7 linked regions of the Homo sapiens genome follow. The protein of the gene in region 7 interacts with the protein of the main gene of each other region in a pairwise test. Each region holds a gene or a part of one and is shown on either strand. Other genes may lie near its edges.

Region 1 (3,500 bases), on a different chromosome or scaffold from region 7:
ACACAGGATATGCTTTTCTGTTAAAGTAGACTCACAGATCACCACTAAACCATTCTATTCAAGGTTGACATTGTTTCATCCACTATTATGAGTGCATTTTATTAGGCACTGGGGATAGGGGATTTTAACAGCAACAAGGTTCTGCCCCGTCACCAATTCCCCCAATGGAGACTTGAAGCCTTCCACACTTTCCTCCTCATTCATCAAGAATGTGCAAGCACACGTGCACACCACATGTGAGGCTACTGTTATGTTTCTCCTGAAACAGGTTACATGGCAACGTGGCCACCCACTTGTTTTCCCTTTATCCCTGTTAATATGTTGTTTCATATATTAAAAAGAATATGAGGGCTGGACACAGTAGCTCACACCTGTAATCCCAACGCTTTGGGAGCCTGAGGTGGGAGGATCACTTGAGGTCAGCCTTGGCAACACAGCAAAACCCTATCTCTATTTAATAAAATGTATATGTTACAAAGCAAAATAATATAACACGTGACAGCCCATCACCCAACCCAAGGACACCTTGCAGCCATCCTCATGCTCCTCCTCACTGAAGCCCTCTGTGTTTCCAACTTAGAGATCTCTTTTCTTTTGCGTCTATACATAAGCATGTAAACTTTTTTACATACATAAGATCATTTCCTATAAGCTGGTTTTTGTTCCATTTTTTAAAATTTGCCTCTTCTAGCCCATACCCCAAGACACATTAACATCTAGATCTTTCCATTTCTTTCCCCATGTTTGCATGATCATGGGAAAATACAGAGTCATACATGTGCATGTGCGCTTGCATTTCCGTACCACACTGCTCTTCTGTTCTTTCCACGACTCCCTCACTGTCCTCATCCTCCCCGCTCTCATGCTTTTTCTCCTTCTCCATCTTCTACCAGCCTTATCTCCACTAAGCCAGTAGCACCCCCTGGTGCAGCCTGACCCCAATATAGCCCTCAACCAAGTTGCTCATACCCTGATCACAGTCTTCATTTCCTGACACAGAGGGGATTCTCAACAAACCCTTGTGTCTTTGTTTATTCAATTTTAAAAGCGTTTCCCTTGAAGATACACATGTTCTCTAAGCACAAATACAAAAAGCATGTAGGCAAATCAATAAGATCACAGTTTAAAAGAATGCTGTGCTCTCTGGGATGAGAAACGGGTATCTTGCAAAGTCAAGAAGGGCAAGAAAGTTCATAAATATAGGCCATCCACAGAAGGGAACTGCCTCTAATTTTCTGTGGGCAGAAGTATAAATATGCAGCCAAGAGCCCTCTTCGGTTTGAATTGTTGAAGCTGGGAGAAAGAAAGAAACTTTGCTCAGCAGAGACAAACAAAAACAAAGTACCAAAGTCCACAACATGTAACATGATTGCAAGAAAGTGACAAAGAAATATAAAACCAATGTCATGCTAGAAAGAGTTGTATTTTAATTTTTAAGGAACTACATCATAAATGTTCTTTATCTTTGTCAGTAAACAACTGGTACTCACTGGTAAGGGGACAGAAAGAAAGGTGGAACCTCCTAGGGGCCCAGTATTTTCTCAGCCATTATACAAATTTGTTTAAAAAATTGAGACAGTATCTCATTCTGTTGCCGAGGCTGGAGTGCAGTAGCACGTTCATAGCTCACCACAACCATGAGCTCCTGGGCTCAAGAGATCCTCCTGGGTCAGCCTCCCAAGCAGCTGGCACTCCAGGTGCACACCACCACATCTGGCTAATTTTTTAATTTTTTGTAGAGATAGGGTCTCGATACATTGACCAGACTAGTCTCAAACTCCTGGCCTCAAGTGATCCTCCTATCTTGGCCTCCCAAAGTGCCAGTATTACAGGCATGAGTCACAGCACCTGGCCTAAAATTTAATTTTAAATTAAAATTACACAATTACAAGTCTTTAATATTCAATTTTAATTTAAGTTAGGACACTTAATAATATTTATAGCAGGCCTCCAGAGACAGGTCTTCACATCCCCTTGCTTTTTTTTTTTTCCCACGTCCTGGTAAGGAAATGAAAGCACAGAGAAGGTAACATTCCCAAGGTCACACAGCTCATGAGTGGCAGAGCTGGGACACATTTAGAAAGCAGAAGCTGTAAAGAAGAAAAGCTGCCCATGAATGGAATCATACACCACACAGGAAGAACAAAAGGAAAACAAACTATTGTAAGAACAAGAATAGAAAAACAAAACCAGAAACCAACACGTGGAAGTTCACATAAGACAGGAAAAGCAAATTTAAAAACTTTCTTCAATTTTATCAGGCAAAATTATATACAGGAAGTCATGTTTCCTGTCAGCTTCCCTCCTCCTTATGTGGCCTCACGCGTCTCCCTCACTCCAGCTCCCTCATCCTGCCATAAGACAGCGGCAAAGTAAACACAAACACGAATTTCTGTCCGGATCTAAATTTCAATCCAAGGCCTTCTACTAAGATAAACGTTTTCACAGAATATATAACATGATCACAGAAGTTCAAACTTGTACATAATACAAGACTGTGTGTGATTAAATAAAATATGCAAATAGGTCAACCAATGGTACAAACCCCTAGTTGAGGTGCATTTTCCCAGAGTGAGACATGTAACTTTCATATGCCTCAGATCTATTATTACAAAAAGTTAACAATAATGGCCTTAGAAGTAATTGATATTTTATCTTGAAAAAAATCAATTAGTTCAGTACTAGTTTGAAAGGAATGTAAAGATCTAGGCTTATAACCTACCTGATGCTTAAGAGTCTTCTAAGTGGCTTCCCCTGGTTCTAGGGCCAGAAAACTCACCACACATCTGGGCAGGGTCTCTGTTGGCAAGCTCTGCCTCTCTACAGCAGAATGATGCAATTCTTCCACCAGATGACCTTTCAGGTATTTACAAAGAGCTATATGCTCCCTTCCTCCCAAAACCTATTCTACTCCTTGTCAAAGAACTCAGATTCTCCCAACTGTGGGATTAGCTTTTGAAAACTCCCACCATCCAAACAGCTTTCCTCTAAGTACACCGTGTAGCACCAGGGAACCTGAAGTCCCTCCTAAACAAGGTGACCAGAGCTATGCACAATACTTCAATTCTAACTGCACCATCTAGAGTCATAAGAAAGCAAGCCTTCCATTCTCTTCTACTTCTAACCACGCATTCTAAGAATGACCTCCTCATGGACATATAAATCACCCTCTAGTTCCACATCATTAATTAAAACACCAAAGTACCATATAAGTTGTCCTAAACTCCACTGACCCAATCCGAGACATTTGTAACTGGTTTTAGCACCCATGGGTGGGATCATAAAAATATACTTCTCAAACATCACCTTGCTGGTCTCAATGCATCGTTCTATCCTTTTAAAACTTGTGGAGCCCATCCTTAATTTTTCATCGAAAATATCTGCAATCCATTCTTGTTCCCATACTATCGTGGAAAAGCTAAGAGTTCCTTCTACATTATCATTCATTGATAATCCACTGATAAATCACTCACTGGTGTCATTCATCGACACCAATGTTA
Region 2 (3,960 bases), on a different chromosome or scaffold from region 7:
GCGAAACCCTGTTTCTACTAAAATAAAAAATTAGCCAGGCGGGTTGACGTGCGCCTGTAATCCCAACTACTCGGAAGGCTGAGGCAGGAGAATCGCTTGAATCCGGGAGGCGGAGGCTGCAGTGAGCTGAGAACGCGCCACTGCACTCCAGCCTGGGCGACAGAGCCAGACTCCGTCTCAAAAAAAAAAAAAAAGCATTTCACACCAAGTATCACTAAAGCACAGATCCTTGGGGCCTTTGCAATTGCTGTTCTCTCTTCCTGTAGTGTTCTTATCTTCATAAACACATGGCTTGCTTCCCCACCTCTTCAAGGGCTCCGTTCAAATGACTCCCCCCCGCCCCGCCTAACCTCTAATTTCCAGTCTCCTTCCTCTCTTTTCATGTCACCACCACCTGATTTACGTAGGCGTTTGTGTCTCCCCTCCTTGAAACTTAACTTCGTGAAGGTAGAATCTTATCTGATTTGGTGCAGTATCTCCATAACCCAGTTAGACAGTAAATTTTTGTTGAATTTACCAGTGTATGGTTACTGTCCCAATTCTGGACACAAATTCTATAATACATATGAAAAGGAGCTGAAAATATATAGTAATACATAAATGTAAAACATTATTGCTGCCTGAATTTAACTTTTGCTGACTGGATCCACAGACAAGAAAGAGAAATACCAAATACAACTAATTCAACTCTGTTTATTTTTGACGAAACCGATTTCTTTCATTCAGTTCATACTACGCGTCCACACTGTGCCTCCAAAAATATTTGCCCTTATAACTGAATGCTCAGAAAGGCTAAGAAATCTGCCCAAGGTCCCCTGGCAATCCAGCCAGAGATGTGAGTCACTCTTAAGGTTGGATTTAATACAAATGTTTGAAGGACGGAGCGACAGGCCAGCTGCCCTAGGGAAGCAAAATGCTAAGTGCTCTGATGCGAGGACCGGAGGACAAGGTTCGCGGATGAACCACAGGAACTTCCGGGTTTTAAAGATCCTGGCGCCAAGTTCAGGGCGTTGACCGCGAAGGACGAGGCGTCCCCGTGACGTCCTGCTCTTCCAATGAACTTCAGGCCTGCGGAGACGACGGAGAACGGAAGTTCTCTGCCTGTGTGCTGGTTGGTTGCGCGTTGAGGCCAGCCCCGCCTCCCATCTTCCGGTCTCCTCAGAAGTCGCTTAGCTCTTCGGTGGTTGTCCCACGTCCGGAGGCCTAGCCGTCGCTTACCTAGGATGCCGCGTGGAAGCCGAAGCCGCACCTCCCGCATGGCCCCTCCGGCCAGGTGAGACCATCGCAGGGTTTGAGACCAAAGCGCGGCCGTCCGGACTCTACTGGGGCAATGACGCAGAGGGAGGCCGCGGGCGGGGGTGAACTAAGGTCGGCTGCGGCGTGGGCTCGCCTCTGCCAGGCGGGGGTAGATTGAACGTAAAGCCTATGTTAGGGGAGTGTGGGGAGGGAATTCACTTACGGAAAAAGCTTCCTATCCAAACAACGGGAAAGGCATAACGTTATGGCCAGGTGGTAGGAAGGCATAAATTTTGACCTAGCTTGATTTCGGGGAAAAGAGCACCCAAGGAAATAATCCGGAAATGGTCAGAGGGAGCGTGATACATATGAAGATTTTTAAATACGTGCAGGACATAATTAGTCTTTTGTTATTTGAGAAGGGGTCTCGAAATTGTTGAAAGCATCTGAACGTTGAACAGATGAGGAATAGTTGAAGTTGCTTTTGGTATAATAGTTCAGACGAGTCACTTTGGCCAGTCTTGTTTTGTAATGTGTAAAATGAAGGAATTGGACTAGATTATTTCCCCAGTTGACCATCTTTAAGTCCTAATTAGAATGTTTATTTATTTATATTTTGAGTCAGAGTCTAACTCAGGCTGTAGTGCAGTGACGTAATTATGGCTAACTGCAGCCTTGACTTCCTGGGCTCAAGCTATTCTACCACGTCAGCCTCCAGAGTAACTGGGACTACAGGCATGCGCCACCTGTGCACCACACTTGGCGACTTTATTCTATTTTATATTTTAGCAGAGACAGGGTCTCATTATGTGGCCCTGGCTGGTCTCAAAGTCCTGGCCTCAAATGATCCTTTCGCCTCCACTTCCCTAATCACTGGGATTACAGGCAAGAGCCACCACTCCGCAGCCTATGTTAATTATTTGATCCGTCAATAAAATGTAAACTCCATGAATGCAGAGATTTTTGTCTCTTGTTCACAGTTACATTACCAGCGCCTTGTAGTTACCTAATACTTGAATGAATGAATCCTGTAAGAATCTTTCTAACTTTTAGTAGTCTGTATTTCTTATGACATGTTGGATATGTCTTTAAAGATACTGTGGGCTATCCGAATACATGGAAATTGTTGCAAAGAAGCAGAAAAAACTAGTATGTCCTAGGCTATTACTATTATAAGAAAAGATTAAAGTGGCCGGGCGTGGTGGCTCATGCCTGTAATCCCAACACTTTGGGAGGTCGAGGCGGGTGGATCACTTGAGGTCAGGAGTTCGAGACGAGCCTGGCCAACATGGTGAAACTCCGTCTCTACTAGAAATACAAAAATTAGCTAGGTGTGGTGGTGCGCGCCTGTAATCCCAGCTACTTGGGAAGCGGAGGCAGAAGAATCGGTTGAACCCAGGAGGCAGAGGTTGCAGTGAGATTGGATCGTGACACTGCACTCCAGTCTGGGCATCAGAGTGAGGCCCTGTCTCAAAAAAAAAAAAAAAATTAGGCCGTGCGTGGTGGTTCACACCTGTAATCCCAGCACTTTGGGAGTCCGAGGCGGGTGGATCACCTGAGGTCAGGAGCTGGAGACCAGCCATGGTCACCATAGTGAAACCTCGTCTCAACTAAAAATACAAAAAATTAGCCGGAGGTGGTCGCGGGTGCCTGTAATCCCAGCTACTCGGAAGGCTGAGGCAAGAGAATCGCTTGAGTCTGGGAGGTGGAGGTTGCAGTGAGCTGAGATTGCACCATTGCACTCCAGCCTGGGCAACAAGAGCGAAGCTCCATCTCAAAAAAAAAAAAATTGAAGAGAGAAAATGATGTAAATAATTTGAAATGAAAATCTTGAGGTCCATTTTAATATGTAAGTTATTTTAAGTTGACAATTTCCAAAACTGGTTGGAATTGGGAACTTGATGTTTTTTTCTTTTCTTTCACAGCCGGGCCCCTCAGATGAGAGCTGCACCCAGGCCAGCACCAGTCGCTCAGCCACCAGCAGCGGCACCCCCATCTGCAGTTGGCTCTTCTGCTGCTGCGCCCCGGCAGCCAGGTCTGATGGCCCAGATGGCAACCACTGCAGCTGGCGTGGCTGTGGGCTCTGCTGTGGGGCACACATTGGGTCACGCCATTACTGGGGGCTTCAGTGGAGGAAGTAATGCTGAGCCTGCGAGGCCTGACATCACTTACCAGGTGGGAATTTAGGCAGCATTTCCCTTCCATGGGTGGATTTTATGAGAAAAGCCAGACGTTTGTAAGTTCCTTAAGTGTAGGAATTGTCTTTGATTTTAGAACCCACTGTGCTGTTAATAGACAATGGGTTTTAAAGCCACATTTGGCCGTTGAGTTACTGCCTTAGGCCAGCACCAACAAGTACTGTACAAATTGTGTTTCTTCCCAAGGAGGAGACTTACAACAGTCCACTTGACTCACTGTAAAACAACCACTTTTCCCTTTGAATATTTCATCCCAGTGACACTTCCTACTAATCTTGTCTTGATCTTAGTTAACAAATCAAAAATCTCGCATAGCTGTGTGTTCTTTTACGTGATGTTTGCCATTACCCATCTTTCTGATGTGTGTGGGCTTTCTAGTCTAATGAGCATAGGTGTGTATACTCTTGTATTTCCGGTGTGCTTGAAACTGCTCCATCCAGTTTTCTATAATAGTACCATTTTTCCTCCCTGAAGCTTCAGTAAACCATTTAGTCTTGATAACAAGATAATAATTCCACTTTATTTG
Region 3 (3,500 bases), on a different chromosome or scaffold from region 7:
TTTTCTTCTCTTTTCAAAAAGAGATTCATATTTCGAGTATCTGATGGGACTTCATCACTGTTGCACAACAGCTATGTAATTGCTTTAGGTGCTCTTCCTGCCGTGCAGTGGGTCAAGTGTCACAGACAATAATTTCATCCATGTGCTGGACCCCTTGTTCTCAAGTGTACGCTGCTAAATGGCATGATTTAAAATTCCTATACAGTGTTTATTGCCCTGTCGCATTTTGAAAGCCAGCCAGAAACATCAAACCGACATTTAGGTTCCCCGCCCACTCCGCCACCCCCAGCTCTTGGGAATTCATTTCTTCATCAAAGAGCCACCCAGGACATCAAAACAAAGCTTACTTTCTCAGGCCTTAATTCATCTTTAAAAAGTCATACTACTGTTTTCTTCAGCATCCTATGGATTTATGGGTTTTTTGTCATTATCTTTATTTCTTATTTTGCAGATTCAAATATGACAGTTGCTATCTTCATCAAAGTAACATGAAAGGATATCTTAATCATTGTTAAAGTTGATTTTTGTCCAAATATAAAAATCAAATTAAGTGTCTTATAGCTTACAATATTTATCAGCTTTTGATTTTTGGACATCTCTATTTGTTCTATGTGATCAACGCTGATTTTTTAAAAATCATGCAACTGGATTAATTTTTGATCTTGAAGCCCCCTGGATTATGTAAATACATATTATGGTTTAACAGAGAGGGATGAATGGGATTGAGAAGATATATGTCAAGATATGAAGAAGGAAAGAGGCTACTACACAGAGAGTTAGAATGACAGGGATTAATGAATCTTGCCTGTATCCCTAGTTATTTTTTTTACTGAGAAGACAGTGAGTAAGATTTAAGAGTGAGCAAGCAGTCCTATTTATAGAAAGCTGTTTTTAAGTGCAGCCGCAAAGACAGTGAAAGAAAGAATTGAAAATGCAAGAGATCACCTCCATACTAAATGCTAGCTTCCCCTAACGTCCCAGCTCTGTACAGCATTTTGTAGGAGAAAAAAACAAAAAAAAAAGCATACCAACCCTTGCAGAAATATTATGAAATCTCTTTGGACTCTCTGCAGAATATTCTAGAAGTGCTCTCAGTCTTTAAGTCTATGTTAGGCTTGGGAAGCTGGGGATGAGAAGGCAATATATATATTATCTGGAAACAGCTTGAGTAGGTCTGAACAAAAGACTGGAGGTGAAGGGAGGACATTGAACTTGCAGCACTGCTACAAATATTTATTCTGCAATAAGCCTTGCCTTTCTTAAAGATGTTTCACGGCAGAATAGTAGGAGGGTGAAATCTGCATACATCTCAGTAATAAAGCAATTACTGAGAGAAGAGTTCAAATTTAGGATCCTGTGATTATCACAAGTCCCTCCATGTTAACCTGTTCTCAAACTCTGGGGTTTTAAATTGCAATATATGAAGTCCTTATTTGTCAGTCTGTGTCGGGCAGACAATATCACCCCAGGCTTTGTGATTGACACAAATGTTATTGGACAAGGGAAAAAGAATGCCACATGCTCTTATAAATGAAATAGTCTTTATAAGATTCCATATATAAGTGAGATCATGGATTTTGTATGTGTGTGTCTGGCATATATCACTTAGCTAATGTCCCCCAGGTTCCTTAAGTATATACAATTTAGCATAAAAAAAGAAATGAAATAGTTTTCCTTTCTAGGCCTGTATTTGTTACTTATAGCATTCTGGTTTTCCTGGTTCCAAGTGGGCTTTGGGTTTTATTAATAGTAGAATCGTTGAATTTTTATGCAAATACTGCTGATTTACAGGTTGGAAATCTGGACAAAATCAGACCTGCCCTAGAAGATGATGCTGTGGAAAGTGTTTGCCTTTTGTCTTATAAAGAACCATCTATAAAATGGATCATTTTGTCGCTAGTCTCTCCAGACTATGAAATTGGCATTTTGATAAGGTGATGGAAAGAAATTTGAACTATTTAATTACTGATTTTGATTCATACAAGCCTTGACTCTTTTAGTATTAAAATGAAGAAACAGGAAACAGTTTTAAGTCTGGTTTTACATAAAATTTACACTTTTTTCACACTGAAAATAAAACAGTAAAAGCCAGCTTATAGTTCTTTCTAAATATCCCAACTTTCTCATTATTGGATGCTTCTGCAAAACAGCAGTATGGTGATACCACTCCCAGTGTTGACCTTGATGACCTGAGGGTCCCAAAGTGGCTTCAGCATTATCATGGAGTCACCACAATGATCAGGTAGAAGCTGGTGTTAGGACCAGCGTGAATGGGTCACAGGGGCTGAGGGGGGCTGTTGGGAGGTAGCCCATGCCGTATACTGAAGAGCCATCCATGCCACTTCAGGTGGGTGATTGCAGTGGACTCTCTTACCATTGATTAATCTTCCTAATATTGAGTAAAGCATTGATTCTTCTCATAAGCATGAACTGCTGGATGATGGGAACATTTCTGTGATTGTATCATAAGAGAAAGACAAGTAGAAAGATAATTAGAACTGCTGCAATTCTATGTATATTTTAATTTAATTTATTTTTTTAAATACAAAAGACAGCTATATTTCCTATATAATAAGGAAACTTATTACTTTAAGGAAATATACTTTCTCACGAGAGAAACTCAAGATTCAATTCTTTTCACAGTTAGCCCCGCTGTGGTGTGATTTGATCTTGGGTTCCATAGAGATACAGAAAATCCAAGTCCCAGTCTGCTTAATTGCCATGTTTATTTTTTAATCTCGGCTGTAGAGCATTTTTAATAACTGATATGTAGCTTGCAGGGTAGAAATAACAATGCTTTGGAATATTACCTGTGAGACTTTAGGAATGAGCTGAAGACACCCAACAATGACAACAATGGCCTCTACCAGCAAAACGGGAACCATGACTACTTTATCACTCCTGCCGGATCTAGTTCTTGTCAGTTCCTGCAAAGGCTAGTCACTTGTCTATTTCGTTGGCTAGTGAAAAGGAAATGCACAAGAAATGTGGAATGCTGTCTAACAGACAGAATCCTCCTTTCACAAGTTGTTTAAGTTGGCAGCCCAAGTTAGCAACCTCTATCCGGGTCCTTAACGTGACAGCAGAATGTGGGTAGGATGGTTAATTACCAGATGTGTCTGTTATGACTCACCCAAATCAATAGCTATTAAATCCTTGGTGGCTACTGTTTTAGAATAGGCTTCATTGAATATTTGTATAGAAATCTGGGTAGAAAAATGTGGACCTCGAGGTGATCTAGGTATTTGTTTTGGGCAAGGAACTCTCATCAGTGGTTGGTTTATTTGTGTCTTGGGGGATCTCACATCATCAGCCTTTATTAATCACAGGCACGAGGGGCCCCACACTCTCCCCCATACCTCTACCGCCCCATTGCTGAGGATGGGAGAGTAAGAATATAGAATATGCTGTAGGCTTCTGTGGGATTAGATGCTTGGAGGCAGCGGAGGCAAATGTTCATGGGAACACTGAATATGGAGGAAGAGGCTGTGCCAGCCCCA
Region 4 (3,334 bases), on a different chromosome or scaffold from region 7:
GCAGTGGGGCTTTATGGGGCTCGAGGCGGAGGGATTGGGGATCGGGATGGAGTCATGCCAAAAATGGACATCATTTCTGGAACACTTGGTATGTATACATTGTATTACATACACTAAAATTCCATTATCCTAACAAGGCCAAGGACTAACTAGTCTAACTGGGATCAGGTGAGGAGACAGCCTGACAGCATATGAAGCCTGGGCCACTCTTTCTTTTGGCCCAGCTTAGTGGAATCCCTTGGGTCATGGAGGCATGGCTCTTAGAATCAAAGTAAATCCCACAGCCTAACACACTGATAGACCATTTATTGCTATCTGAGCTCATTTCAGACATAGTTGTGGGTCTAGCCCCATGCCATGGCAAGAGCCTGTACTCTCTGTGCCTCAGGCTGTTCTTAATTAAAAAGAAAAAGGAATTCTAGTACTTTTCTCCTGGAGCACTTGTTAGGTTCAGGTGTTGTGAAGTGCTGAACTCCGTGCCTGCCACGTGGGAACATTCTAATTCATCCTGGTTTTCCTCTGCTCTTCCTCATACAGAGGCTATGTCTCGTGGTAGATGGGAGCTAGACTTTGGAGCCCTGCCACCTCACTAGTTGTGTGACCTTGAGTTGGTAGTTAACCTTTCTATACCTCAGTTTCATCATCAATATAATGGAGAAAACAATAGGACCTAAATCAAAATATATGTGGAGAAGGTAAATAAGTTGTATGCAAACAGTTATTATAAACATTCCCTCTGAGAACCTATGAGAACCCTAAAGAGACGAAAATTACATAAATTTGAAGAATTTTTGTAATTTTGAAGAATTTTTTTAAGCCTTCAGAAGTGGGTAAGGCAGTTGGAAACCCATCTAGCAGTTAGCTAAAATGCCAGTTTATAGCCTATGCTTGGTAAAGGAAGGGCAGGCTTTTTAAAAAGCGTCCTTCAGCACTGTCAAGGGGTATGAGAACCTAGTGCAGACCCAGAAAGCCTGGGAGTTCTAAGGGTGGAACCACTACCAGGAGAAAAACACCTGATCATGTGTCTTAATTCAAGAAGCTCTTTTCTTTTTTTTCTTTTTTTTCCGAGATGGAGTGTCACTCTGTTGCCCAGGCTGGAGTGCAGTGGCGCGATCTCAGCTCACTGCAAGCTCCACCTCCCAGGTTCATGCCATTCTACTGCCTCAGCCTCCCAAGTAGCTGGGACTACAGGCACCCGCCACCATGCCTGGCTAATTTTTTGTATTTGTAGTAGAGACGGGGTTTCACCGTGTTAGCCAGAATGTTCTCAATCTCCTGACCACGTGATCTGCCCGCCTCAGCCTCCCAAAGTGCTGGGATTACAGGCGTGAGCCACCACACCCGGCCAGAAGCTCTTTTCTTTTAAGGATGTCTCCTGATGTGGGCTCTTTGAAGGTATGGTCATTGTGAGATGGAAAAGGCTGGAGAGAGAAACTTTATACCATAGGAGATTGAACCAACCCAGCTTTGCATGTGGTTTTAGCAAAAACATTAATTATAGAATGTTATGTTAAGATCTATGAAGACTCTTCTGGAGTTCTTTTTGTTTTTTGAGACAGGCTCTCACTCTGTGCCCAGGTGTGATCACAGCTCATCTGCAGCCTCCACCTCCTGGGCTCAAGTGATCCTCCCACCTCAACCTCCTGAATAACTGAGACTACAGGTGTGCGCTAGCATGCCTGGCTAATTTTTGTATTTTTAGTAGAAACGGGGTTTCACCATGTTGGCCAGGCTGGTCTCTAACTCCTGAGCTCAAGTGATTTGCCCCCCTCGGCCTCCCAAAGTTCTGGGACTATAGGTGTGAGCCACTGCACCTGGCCTCTTCTGGAGTTTTTAATCCTGAAACTTGAGATGTAGATCACACAAAAGGACTCAATGAGAATTGAAAACCAAGTCTGGCCCTAAATCAATCCTAATGCATTAATTGTCAAGAGTTTTGTTCTTAAGTAGGAAATAACACCAGTCATACCAAAACAGTTAATGCCTTAGCTGGGTAAAATTCCAGCCTCTGGGATAATGTTCCCTGTGGGAGGATGGTACAAGCACTGCAGAGCCAGTCTTGTTCCAAAGAGCACATGCAGTGCAGACATGGGGAGTGGAGCTGTGCTGGCTGTCAGAGCAGCAAGCCTGGGTGAGAAAGGGAAAGGAGAATAAGATGGTGGGAAGGGAGGCAGCAGCAGGGTATTTGGGCACACTGGGACCAGTCACTGAGGTGTCAGGTCTGATTGGAAGACCTGCATTTTGATCCTGGTTAGACACCAGCTTGGCCATATGACTTTGGGCAAGACCCTTTTGTAACTTTCCTTAGCTTTTTTACCCTTTTAAAAGTGAGTAGCCAGGCACGATAGCTCACACCTGAATCCCAGCACTTTGGGAGGCTGAGACAGGAGGATCACTTGAACCCAGGAGTTTGAGACCAGCCCTGGGCAACGAAGCATGGCCTCCTCTCTACACAAAATAAAAATTTAAAAAATCAGCCAGGCATGGTGGTGTACACCTGTCCTAGCTACTTGGGAGGCTGAGGCGGAAGGAATACTTGAGCCCAGGAGGTTGAGGCTGCAGAGAGCTATGATCATGCCACTGCACTCCAGCCTGGGTGACAGAGCAAGACCCTGTCTCTAAAAAAAAAAGGAAGATTAGATATCCTTTTATAGTCATGCATTGCTTAACGATGGGGGATGTGTTCTGAGAATTGCATCACTAGGCGATTTCATCATTGTGCAAACACCATAGAGTGTACTTACATAAACCTAGATTATATAGCCTACCGCACACCTAGGCTTTGTGGTATGGCGTGTTGCTCCTAGGCTGCAAACCTGTACAACATGTTACTGTATTGGATACTGTTGGCAACACCATGGTATTTGTGTATCTAAACATACCTAAACATAGAAAAGGTACAGTAAAAATACAGTATTATAATCTTATGGGACCACCATCATATATGTGGTCGTCATTGACTGAGACATCATTAATGTGGTGCATGACTACTCCAATCAGTCCAGGAACAAATTAAAAAGATAAGGAGAAAAGTCAGTGCTTTGAGGCTCCACAACACCTTGCTGTGTCCATTTAGAGCAATTTACAGCTGTTGCTGTAATTAATGAAGCTATCTCCTCCCAGGCAAAGCCTTTGGTTGTGTTGGAGGGTACATCGCCAGCACGAGTTCTCTGATTGACACCGTACGGTCCTATGCTGCTGGCTTCATCTTCACCACCTCTCTGCCACCCATGCTGCTGGCTGGAGCCCTGGAGTCTGTGCGGATCCTGAAGAGCGCTGAGGGACGGGTGCTTCGCCGCCAGCACCAGCGCAACGTCAAACTCATGAGACAGAT
Region 5 (3,500 bases), on a different chromosome or scaffold from region 7:
ATGTATATATCAGAATATAGTTTCAATGTACATGAAAAAACTCAGTGTATAAGGAAACCGTGTAGTATTATCTTTTGGATAAAGATGGATTTTTTTATTATCCTCTCCTTTTGGTTTTGAAAGAATAGTAGAAAATGTCAGTACAGTTCCTTTGCGCTTAGAACAAGAGGGGAAATAGTAAATGTGAGAAATTAATCCCAGAGAGATTTTTAAAAAGGTCTTATACAAATATGCTTTCAGATAATGTTTCTGTCTATATATCTATAGATAGATAAATGGGCAAGCAGGGGTAGTTAGGAGTATACAACTGATAGATAGTGGTTTAGGCTTCAAATTATAACTGACATTACTTCACTAACATTACTGTAGTGCATTGGGCTTTAATTCTTTTTATTGAGTATCTCTGAGGATATCTGATTTGAGACTTGCAGTATTTAAATTGGCTGTCTAATTTTGTAGCAGTCTCCATGGACTGACTTATGTAAGCCTAAGAATTCTGTGGGTGGCCACATGGCTCTTGTTAGGAGCTGGATAAGGCCTGACACCCTTGTATATGATCAGTGCTGACCATAGAGAGTACCTGTAGAGTCTGCATCACTCCAGCATGCTGTCAGTAGGGCAGGAAAAGCGAGAATGATCATAGGGCGTTTTGTTCCTTGCACTTTTGGTTTTACCTGAGATGTGCAGCTGGCACAGTGGGTGTAGTTTCACTCTCTACTTGTCTCTTAGTTATAGCTATCTATGATAAAGGATGGAAAGCTAAGGTTAGGATTTTATTTCAGGTATTAAGTAGCTGTACTTCTTTTGGTGGGGGAAGCAAGTGAGTTTGATATACATAATACCACAGAACAAAGATTTATAGTTAGGCAATTGAGACCAACTATTAAAGGAAGAAAAGGGCTGGGCGCGGTGGCTCACACCTGTAATCCCAGCACTTTGGGAGGCAGAGGCGGGTGGATCACGAGGTCAGGAGATCGAGACCATCCTGGCTAACACGGTGAAACCCCGTCTCTACTAAAAAAATACAAAAAATTAGCCGGGCGTGGTGGCAGGCGCCTGTAGTCCCAGCTACTCGGGAAGCTGAGGCAGGAGAATGGCGTGAAGCCGAGATCGCGCCACTGCACTCCAGCCTGGGCGACAGAGCGAGACTCCGTCTCAAAAAAAAAAAAGGAAGAAAAGTTGGTTTGAGGAAGAATAAAGTAAAAAATAGTCGAATTTTAGGGTTTCGATTCTAATATTTGAATGTAACCTGAAATTTTGAATGTATTTTGAATGTAACCTGAATTTTGGTAAAACATTTAGCCTGGTCATAAATCCATTTGGTTACATGTCTTGCGACTAGTATAGTATGTTCTTTACCATCATAATTTAATAGTTATAGCATTTGATATAGGTTAAGGTACTTTAGGTAGAATTGTTAAATATATATTGACATAATTATATAAAGGACATACTCTGTATCATATATAGTTCCGTTTTTAGAATCTGTTAGTATGTTTTCCTGTATTCCAAGTTGTTGACTCAGTTATTTTTAATTAGTATTCTGTAAGCCAATTCAGTCATTTCTTAAATGATTATTTTTTAAAAAGTTTTGTGTGACACCATTTAAGAAAATGAAAATGTCAAGTCTTGGATTTATGAGACAATAAGAAACATATTTTTATCATGTTATTTATCAGTCTTTTTCTAAATAACTGAGGGATGATTCCTTGGTATATATTTTAGGTTTAAAATCCAGAGGTTGTTTTGAAATATTTTCTAATATTAAAGTAGCTTGTTTTGAAATTTGGATGATAGCATAAGTATATTGATTGGTTATTTTTAAATTTGAAGTGAAATGATAATTTTAAAGGTAGAGTAGCCATATATAACTCAGTTTATTAGCAAGAAAATGTCAGTTTTAGATACTGCAATCAAATTAGTTTTAGTTCTGAAGTACAAAAGGAAGCAGACATTTGGGAACTTCAGTTACAGTGCTAGTACCACCTAGCGTTAGAACACTGGTGTTCCCCTGGATTTGAGTGGTGTTGTGTGATATGCTGTGAGGATGTACATGGTAGTTTTGGCCCTTGTAGAGTTCATATCTTCAAATGGCCTTGGCTCTTAACCATTCTTGTATACATAAAAATAGTATAAATTATTACTCTTGAAGTTGAGATTCTTTATTTTGTCCTATATTTTTATTTTACAGTTTCTGACATGAATTTGGAAATTGAGCATCCTTATTCAGTTTATTTATCTTGGAAAACCTTAATAGATGAGATTTTGATGAAGTCTTGATGATTCTCTGTTAACTGTTGACAGGGTGGTAAATACTAAAGTCATGAGGTTTAAAATATTGACTAGTTCAGCTCTGTGCTTGCAGTTTTTCCCCACTCTAAGATCATATTGTATTAGGACCACTAAAACCGAGCAAGAAGGAATAAACTAGGAAAACAGATGACCTGTTGTTGGTGAAATACTGTATCTTTAAGGACATTGAATATTTTTCATGAAGCTCATTGTCACCAAGTATGGAACTCTAAATTGGTGTTGCTTTTTGTTTCAGCATCAAAGCTGGACGACTCCTCTCCTACATTCCATATCAGCTGTACACCAAGCAGTCCAGTGTGCAGAAAGGTCTCAGCTTTAATCCTGTATGCAGACCTGAGGATCCTCTGCCAGGTCCAAGCAATATAGCCAAACAGCTCAACAACAGGGTGTAAGTTTGTCTAGTTGGGGATTACTGCAAAGCTGGTTGGTTTTTTTTTTTTTTTTTTTTTTTTGAGATGGAGTTTTGCTCTTGTTGCCGAGGCTGGAGTGCAATGGTATGATCTCGGCTCATTGCAACCTCTGCCTCCCAGGTTCAAGTGATTCTCCTGCCTCAGCCTCCCGAGTAGCTAGGCTTACAGGCGTGTGCCACCACGCCTGGCTAATTTTTGTATTTTTAGTAGAGACGGGGTTTCACCATCTTGGCCAGGCTGGTCTCGAACTCCTGGCCTTGTGATCTACCTTCCTTGGCCTCCCAAAGTGCTGGGGTTACAGGCATGAGCCACCACGCCTGGCCACAAAGCTGGTTTTTAGCAGTGAGCATGGCCCCTGCTCTGTTACAGTCAGACAGAAGCAGATACAAACCCTGGCCATTCACTTATAATAAACATGTTGAAATATGTGTGTATGAGTGTCTTATCTAAAAATGAATTATTTTTATAATGATAATTTCATAAATGTAAGTAAGTTTTTACAGTCATACTGGTTTCTCACCTTAAACTAGTGGATCTTAATTGTTAATAAGTTTTTTCATGGATTTTTATGAAAGTAATTATTTCCTCACAAGTAATTTGCTGTATTGCTTTCTCAAAAATGGAACTAACTGCACCAGCTATATTTTTGTTGTGTTCCATGCATAGAAAGACAATGAAAATGTTAATATTTCTGGGTTATTTTTGAAAAATTCAAAATTCATAACATTCTAAATATGTAAATATATAAATGGAAGTTTAGTTGGTGACCCTTGGTTA
Region 6 (3,500 bases), on a different chromosome or scaffold from region 7:
TGACTTGACAGTACTGCGACAATACTCCTGTTTGTGAAACTCGGAACACAAGACTCTGGAGGCTGTGTCTCCAGCAAATGTCCAGAGCGTACTGTTTTATGTATTCAAAAAAACAAAACAGAGAAATAAGAAGAGGTCAATAAATGTCCCCAAAAACCCTGGAGAGATACTAACTTTCAATCTAAGAAAAAGAACAGCTTCCCAGGGCCCTGCCAGTGAGACACAAGGACACAGAATGTAACTTGCTGATGCCAGGTTAAAATGAAATTAACTACATCAGAAAAAACCTCCGCAGACCATCAAGAGATGTGTCTAACGTTCTCATCTACAAAACCAGGTTAAATATTTAGCCACACTCATCACGTCATCTGCTTGGGGGGTACCCAGCCCCCAAAGACTCAAGTGGCCTTCACAACAGGTGACACCCCTCAAGGGGCCTGAGACCTCCTGCCTGGAAGGACACCAGCCTTGCTTGGAGTCTCCGGCAAGCCCCGAGGAAGGTGAGCCTCCCCAAGGAAATCACGTACGTTTGACACACAGCAGCAGCAAATACTCACCGTGGAAAAAGAGCCTTCCCCAAGGATTTTCCCAAACTTGAAGTCCTCAGGCCGCTTCTTCCGAGGCTGCGGCGGAGGCTGGGCATGCTGCAGGGAGCCGGCGCCGGGCCGAGGCTCGGCTGCAGTGCCGTCCATGGCGGGGCCCTGCCTGCTGCCACCAGGAATGCCAGGGGGCGTGCTGGACTCAGTCTGGGTCCTCACCATTGATGGGGATGGGCAGGAACATAACACCACGCTGGACTGGATGGGCACGGCGTCATACTAGGCGACAAAGAGGAAAAGGAAGTAAGGCTCAAGGCAGCTGCCTTGCTCTCAATGCACGGACTAAGGTTTAAGGACCTCATTTCAACGCTCAAAAACAAACCCCAAGCACAGGGCAGGCCAGCTGAGCCCCGCGGTCTGCTGTGAGCTGCCGGCCTCCTCTCCTGAGTCCTGCCCGTGCCATGGCTCCCCGCTAATCCACCAGGCAGCGCCTCGCCCTCCTCCTGTCCCTCGCGCTGCCTGAGCCTCCAGCCAACTCATCCCAAGGCCAAGGTAACCTGAGCAGAGATAGCACGGCACATCTTTAATTGTGGGGGGGATGGAGAGATAAGAGTGATGATCGCATGTGTTTACAATACACAGAGACGCCCAGTGCTGGCAAGACTATAATAAAGCGAGCGCACTCACACCACTGCGGCTGGCACCAAAAACCGGGATTGCAGTGGAAATGTTTTTGGAAAGCAGTTTGGCAACTGTCAACAAAGCGACTACAGAACAGTTGTCAATGAGACACAGAAATACGAAGGAGAGGAGGGAGGGCAGAAACCCAGTTAACAATGTAAGCGGGCACGGAGGGAAGATCAGCGTGCAAAGCTAGGTCGGCAAGACGTGCAAGGTGCACCCACAGCCATAACAATCCCTCCCCAGACCCCAACGTGTCCTCACGGTGGTGGCAGTGGCCCCCCGCACTACAGAAGAACAATGCGAGGCGAGCTCAGGCGCGCTGATGGTGGTTTCCGATACAACTCCCCACTCAAAGAACCCCGGAGAGCTCTTGATTCCATCTCTCAGTAGGGTCCTGAAGTCCATGCTGTCTGAAGACACAGGGTCTCCCCCTGCGTCTGTGCCAGGACAGAGGGACTGCCACCAGCCAAGCTGCAATCCTTTTAAACGCTAAAAACGGCCGGGCTTGGTGGCTCATGCCTGTAGTCCCAGCAGTTTGGGTGGATGAGGCGGGTGGATCCCCTGCGGTCGGGAGTTCAAGATCAGCCTGACCAACACGAATAAACCCCTTCTCTACTAAAAATACAAAATTAGGCCGGGCACAGTGGCTCAGGCCTGTAATCCCAGCACTTTGGGAGGCAGAGGCGGGAGGATCACCTGAGGTCAGGAGTTCGAGACCAGCCTGACCACATGGAGAAATCCCGTCTCTACTAAAAATACAAAAAAACTAGCCGGGCTTGTTGGCGCATGCCTGTAATGCCAGCTACTTGGGAGGCTGAGGCAGGAGAATCGCTTCAACCTGCAAGGCAGAGGTTGCAGTGAGCTGATAGCATGCCATTGCACTCCAGCCTAGGCAACAAGAGTGAAATTTCGTCTCAAAAAAAAAAAAAAAAAAAAAAAATAGGCCGGGCGCAGAGGCCAAAGTGGGTGGATCACTTCAGCCCATGAGTTCAAGACCAGCCTGGGCAAACACAGCAAAACCTCACCTCTACTAAAAATATAAAAATTAACCAGGTACGGTGGCATGTGCCTGTCGTCGCAGTTAATTGGGAGGCTGAGGTAGGAGGATTACCTAAGCCCGGGGAGGTCGAGGCTGCAATGAGCCAAGATCACATCACTGCACTCCAGCCTGGACGACAGAGGGAGATCCTGCCTCAAAAATAAAAAATAATAAGTAAATAAATAAAAAGAATATATTCACTATTTTGCTTATCAAAGTCTCTTAAAGGAGGTGACTTACCTACGCTATGGACCCAATTACTCAGCCAATAAGAGGACACGGTCCCTGCCCATAGAAAGCTGATGTCCAGCCTGACCTCAATACAAAACCATCCAGTTAAAGTGGTGGGGGTGGCTATGCAGAGACGGGCGGGTGCCGGGAGAGTCAAGGGCAGCCCCTTGGCTGGCCAGGGGCTCAGACAGACCAGCTGGGGAGATGCATCACTCGCCCAGGAAAACTGATGACAGCTTAGATGGCACTGCAAGAGCAGGGAGGATCACACTCATGTCCAGAAAGTGAAACATAAAACAGCTAAACATGTACCACACAGCTTTCATACAAAAATTTTATATACACAAATTTTGAAAAAATAGAGATGGGGTTTTGCTTGTTGTCCCGGCTGGTTTCGAACTCCTGAACTCAAGTGATCTGCCTGCCTCAGCTTCCCAAAGTGATGCAATTACAGGCATGTGCCACCATGCCTGGTGACTTTTTTTCTGTTTTGAGACGGGGTCTCACTCTGTCTCCCAGGCTGGAGTTCAGTGGCATGATCATAGCTCACTGCAGTCTCGACCTCCTAGGCTCAAGTGATCCTCCCACCTCAGCCTCCTGAGTAGTGGGACCACAGGTGTGCACCACCGTGTCCAGCTAATTTTTGTAGAGATGGGGTCTCATCATGCTGCCCAGGCTGGTCTCAAACTCCAGGGCTCGAGTGATCCGCCATCCTTGGCCTCCCAAAGTGCTGGATTACAGACCTGAGCCACCACACCAGGCTGCCCCACACATTGTAAAGTTTCGCTTCCCTCTAATGTCAGATTCCAAAGACAGCAGCCTTCATGAGTCAGAAAGAAACATCGGTCATTTTGAAATCAACATCCAACTGAAGTGTAGAAAGGCCTCTGGATTTTTGAAACGGCAACAACAGATGATGTAATACAAAGACGCCCCCACCCCACTGCTTTCCCACTGCATGCTTTACATGACATGGCACAGCTTCCACGCCAGCAGCTTCAATCATG
Region 7 (3,500 bases):
GACTGTATGACCGGGATGTGGCTTCTGCAGCTCCAGAAAAGTAAGTTTCCCTGTGGTTGTGCCTCACAGTATCCTCAGGAGGAGATGGCAGACATATGTAATTGGGGTACTAGGGGTGAAGACAGCGTCCTCCTAGGCCTTGGAAACATCCCCAGAGTACTTCTCTGGGACTAAGACCCATGGAGACAAAAGTGCTGAGTGCCAGGGATAGTCTAAGTCAGAGAGTCCCTTTAGGCCTCCTCAGAATGCTTTCCTAAGCCATTCCTAATTTTCATTATGAGTATCCCAGAGGGCATTTGGGGGACAAGTCTTCTTGATTTCTTGATGTTCAGCTGGAGTCTTTCCCTCAATCTCACATCATCCCTAGAATACATTAAAACAGAAAAGGTTCAGCCCCATTAAGTGATCACAGACAGTCCCTGGGATATAAGAAGACAAGAGTACTCTGGGCCCTGGGGACTGAGGTGGCAATTTGATTTTCTCAACATGGCCCCCTTCTTTTAAGAGGTATCCACACGGTCAGATGATGGCTCCATACCATGGTCTTCCATGCTCTATTATTTGCCCCAACTGAGGAGCAGCTGAGCTGAGGTGCTGCAGAGCAGGTGTCCAGCTGGTGCTAAAGCCCCTTTAGATCAGAGACCAGCCTGTTTAGGTGAGGAGGAGTAGGGAGCTGAGTCAGCCACAGCTTCCATTTCTCCTGGGGTGATCTTGGCCTCCTTCTCCCACCCCATAGAGCAGAGAACCCTGCTGGCCATGGCTCCAAGGAGGTGAAAGGCAAAACTCACACTTACTATCAGGTGCTGATTGATGCTCGTGACTGCCCACATATAGTAAGTAAGCAAGATGGCTGGGCTTGGGGGTCCTCTCCATGGAAAGTCCTGCATCCCAATGGGGACAAAGGGAGGGAAGGGGGTCAAACAGAGCCCAGGTCAGTCTTGGTCCCCAAGGCCTTGGACTGCACAGTGGCCAACAAAGCCCTGATTCACGTCTTTTTTTTTTTTTTTGATATGGAGTCTCACTCTGTCGCCAGGCTGGAGTGCAGTGGTGAGATCTCAGCTCACTGCAACCTCTGCCTCCCGGGTTCAAGTGATTCTCCTGCCTCAGCCACCCGAGTAGCTGGGATTACAGGCATCTGCCACCACACCAGCCTAATTTTTGTACTTTTTAGCAGAGACATGGTTTCACCACTGATTCACTTCTTGCCTTAGTCTCAGAGATCTCAGACAGAAGCTGTGACCTTCTTGGCTAACCATGATGACAGTCGGGCCCTCTATGCCATCCCAGGTGAGTAGTTAGCATTTGAATGGTGCCCGTCAAGAAGGAGTCTGGTGTGTCTCAGGGAGAGGATTCTGATGTCCTGTCATCCACTGGGAGGGATTATGATGCTGAGAGGTATGATATCAGGGTTATCCCATACTGGAACAAGGCCAGTTAATGTTTCTTCTCAACCCCATCTCTCTCCTCTCCTGTGAGTTTCACCACTGTCTTTTGCATCTCTGTGCCAGGCTTGGACTATGTCAGCCATGAAGACATCCTCCCCTACACCTCCACTGATCAGGTTCCCATCCAACATGAACTCTTTGAAAGATTTCTTCTGTATGACCAGACAAAAGGTAATCTCTCTCAAGAAGGGGAGGTGGAATGGGAGGGCCTTTTCATCAAAGAATATCATAGAAATAATTCCAGGGCCGGGCACGGTGGCTCACGCCTGTAATCCCAGCACTTTGGGAGGCCCAGGCAGGTGGATCATCTGAGGTCAGGAGTTCAAGACTGGCCTGGCCAACCTGGTGAAACCCTGTCTCTACTAAAAATACAAAAATTAGCTGGGCGTGGTGGTGGGCGCCTGTAATCCCAGCTACCTGGGAGGCTGAGGCAGGAGAATCACTTGAACCCAGGAGGGTGGAGGTTGCAGTGAGCCGAGATTGCACCATTGCATTCCAGCCTGGGCAACAGAGCGAGACTCCATCTCAGGAAAAAAAAAAAAAAAGGCCCGGGTGCTTGTGGCTCACGCCTATAACTCCAGCACTTTGGGAGGCTGACACGGGCAGATCACTAGGTCAAGAGATCAAGACCATCGTGGCCAATGTGGTGAAACCCTGTTTCTACTAAAAATATAAAAATTAGCTGGGTGTGGTGGCGTGCACCTGTAGTCTCAGCTACTTGGGAGGCTGAGGCTGAAGAATTGCTTGAACCCGGGAGGCACAGGTTGTAGTGAGCTGAGATCATGCCACCGCACTCCATCCCGGCAACAGATCAAGACTCCGTCTCCAAAAAAAAAAAAAAAAAAGAAATAATTCCAACGCTCTATTTCCACAACCCTTTTCAACCTCCTGTTAGAGCTGTCATGCCTCATAGGTGTCATACCTGACAGATGACAGATGGCAGTTATTTCCTTACAGATATGGAAACTGAGGATCAGGGATGATGACAAGGGACTCAAGGTTGCTAGTAGCAGAGTGAGGGCTGAAAACCAGGGCTCTTAACTGCCAGTCCGATTGTTTTCCCATTGTATCACACTAGCTCCTCAGGGCTTATTCTTGGTAGCAGTCCTGTGCCTTCTTCCAGCCTGAACTTTTGCTTCATGTATGAGCACCTTGTTTGCCTGGGCCACCACTAGGGAGGGTTTTCTAGGAGGGGCAATCGCACTGGACTATTGTGTGATTGGACTAGATACAATTGTATCCACAACACACAATTGGACTAACCAATTGTATCTTGCCCCAGCACCTCCTTTTGTGGCTCGGGAGACGCTAAGGGCCTGGCAAGAGAAGAATCACCCCTGGCTGGAGCTCTCCGATGTTCATCGGGAAACAACTGAGAACATACGTGTCACTGTCATCCCCTTCTACATGGGCATGAGGGTATGTGGCCAGCCTGGACCCCTTCTAGCAGGGGTAGGCCCCAAGGTGTATGGTGTCCTTAAGGTGACTGCCGGGGGAAGGGAGTCTAAATATAAACCATGTCCCTGTGGTTCTGCTTCCAAGTGGTGGCATGTGTTGGGTGGGGTTGAGTAGCCTCTAGACAGTGGCTGACACCAAGACCTAGAGCGGGCAGGAAAACTCATAGGTCCCAGGAAGGAATCCTTTATCCTGTCTCTTCCCTCTTGCTCAAAGGGAGCCATGTTTATGAAGAATATACACATAATTATTTAAAGCAGTGTAGGCATAACACTTTTTACACATTATAGACACTTACACATCGCCTGGCTGTAAGCATGTGCAGTGGTAGGGGCCGCCCAACTCCACAGACAGAAGCTATAGGTCAGAAAAGTACGTATAGTCAGTGCATGCTTGGATACAAATATAAATGAAACACCGTCCCTGTCTTCCAGGACCTTATAGTAGTGGAGGAGGCCAACTTAAAGTATTATAGCAAGGGACAGTAATGGGAGACAGGAGGAGGACAGGGGCTCAGGGCAGCAAGGATAGGGGGCAGGGCTGGTGAGGAGGGCAGTGAAAAAGGTAAGAGCCCTGTAACTGATTTCTGTTGGCATCCAG

What was found.
Region 1: the proteins of POLDIP2 (region 7) and MTUS2 interact in binary tests that used the Homo sapiens proteins (3 or more experiments, as listed by UniProt).
Region 2: the proteins of POLDIP2 (region 7) and CHCHD2 interact in binary tests that used the Homo sapiens proteins (3 or more experiments, as listed by UniProt).
Region 3: the proteins of POLDIP2 (region 7) and DSCAM interact in a two-hybrid assay, tested with the Homo sapiens proteins (one large-scale study listed by BioGRID and IntAct).
Region 4: the proteins of POLDIP2 (region 7) and ALAS1 interact in binary tests that used the Homo sapiens proteins (3 or more experiments, as listed by UniProt).
Region 5: the proteins of POLDIP2 (region 7) and REV1 interact in a two-hybrid assay, tested with the Homo sapiens proteins (one study listed by BioGRID).
Region 6: the proteins of POLDIP2 (region 7) and PDPK1 interact in a two-hybrid assay, tested with the Homo sapiens proteins (one large-scale study listed by BioGRID and IntAct).

Annotation. Positions count from the first base shown.
Region 1 is NC_000013.11:29,019,339-29,022,838, reverse strand, and holds part of MTUS2 (microtubule-associated tumor suppressor candidate 2), read right to left. Parts: intron 1-3,500. UniProt on the Homo sapiens protein: Binds microtubules. Together with MAPRE1 may target the microtubule depolymerase KIF2C to the plus-end of microtubules. May regulate the dynamics of microtubules at their growing distal tip.
Region 2 is NC_000007.14:56,103,677-56,107,636, reverse strand, and holds the start of CHCHD2 (coiled-coil-helix-coiled-coil-helix domain-containing protein 2 isoform 2 precursor), read left to right. Parts: upstream 1-1,160; 5' UTR 1,161-1,223; coding exon 1,224-1,273; intron 1,274-3,161; coding exon 3,162-3,411; intron 3,412-3,960. UniProt on the Homo sapiens protein: Transcription factor. Binds to the oxygen responsive element of COX4I2 and activates its transcription under hypoxia conditions (4% oxygen), as well as normoxia conditions (20% oxygen).
Region 3 is NC_000021.9:40,837,159-40,840,658, reverse strand, and holds part of DSCAM (cell adhesion molecule DSCAM isoform CHD2-42 precursor), read left to right. Parts: intron 1-3,500. UniProt on the Homo sapiens protein: Cell adhesion molecule that plays a role in neuronal self-avoidance. Promotes repulsion between specific neuronal processes of either the same cell or the same subtype of cells.
Region 4 is NC_000003.12:52,208,160-52,211,493, forward strand, and holds part of ALAS1 (5-aminolevulinate synthase, non-specific, mitochondrial isoform 1 precursor), read left to right. Parts: coding exon 1-88; intron 89-3,123; coding exon 3,124-3,334.
Region 5 is NC_000002.12:99,441,518-99,445,017, reverse strand, and holds part of REV1 (DNA repair protein REV1), read left to right. Parts: intron 1-2,548; coding exon 2,549-2,701; intron 2,702-3,500. UniProt on the Homo sapiens protein: Deoxycytidyl transferase involved in DNA repair. Transfers a dCMP residue from dCTP to the 3'-end of a DNA primer in a template-dependent reaction.
Region 6 is NC_000016.10:2,555,021-2,558,520, reverse strand, and holds part of PDPK1 (3-phosphoinositide-dependent protein kinase 1), read right to left. Parts: intron 819-3,500; coding exon 558-818; intron 542-557; exon of another isoform or gene 1-541. UniProt on the Homo sapiens protein: Serine/threonine kinase which acts as a master kinase, phosphorylating and activating a subgroup of the AGC family of protein kinases.
Region 7 is NC_000017.11:28,351,028-28,354,527, reverse strand, and holds part of POLDIP2 (polymerase delta-interacting protein 2), read left to right. Parts: coding exon 1-40; intron 41-736; coding exon 737-833; intron 834-1,211; coding exon 1,212-1,287; intron 1,288-1,508; coding exon 1,509-1,616; intron 1,617-2,727; coding exon 2,728-2,864; intron 2,865-3,500. UniProt on the Homo sapiens protein: Involved in DNA damage tolerance by regulating translesion synthesis (TLS) of templates carrying DNA damage lesions such as 8oxoG and abasic sites.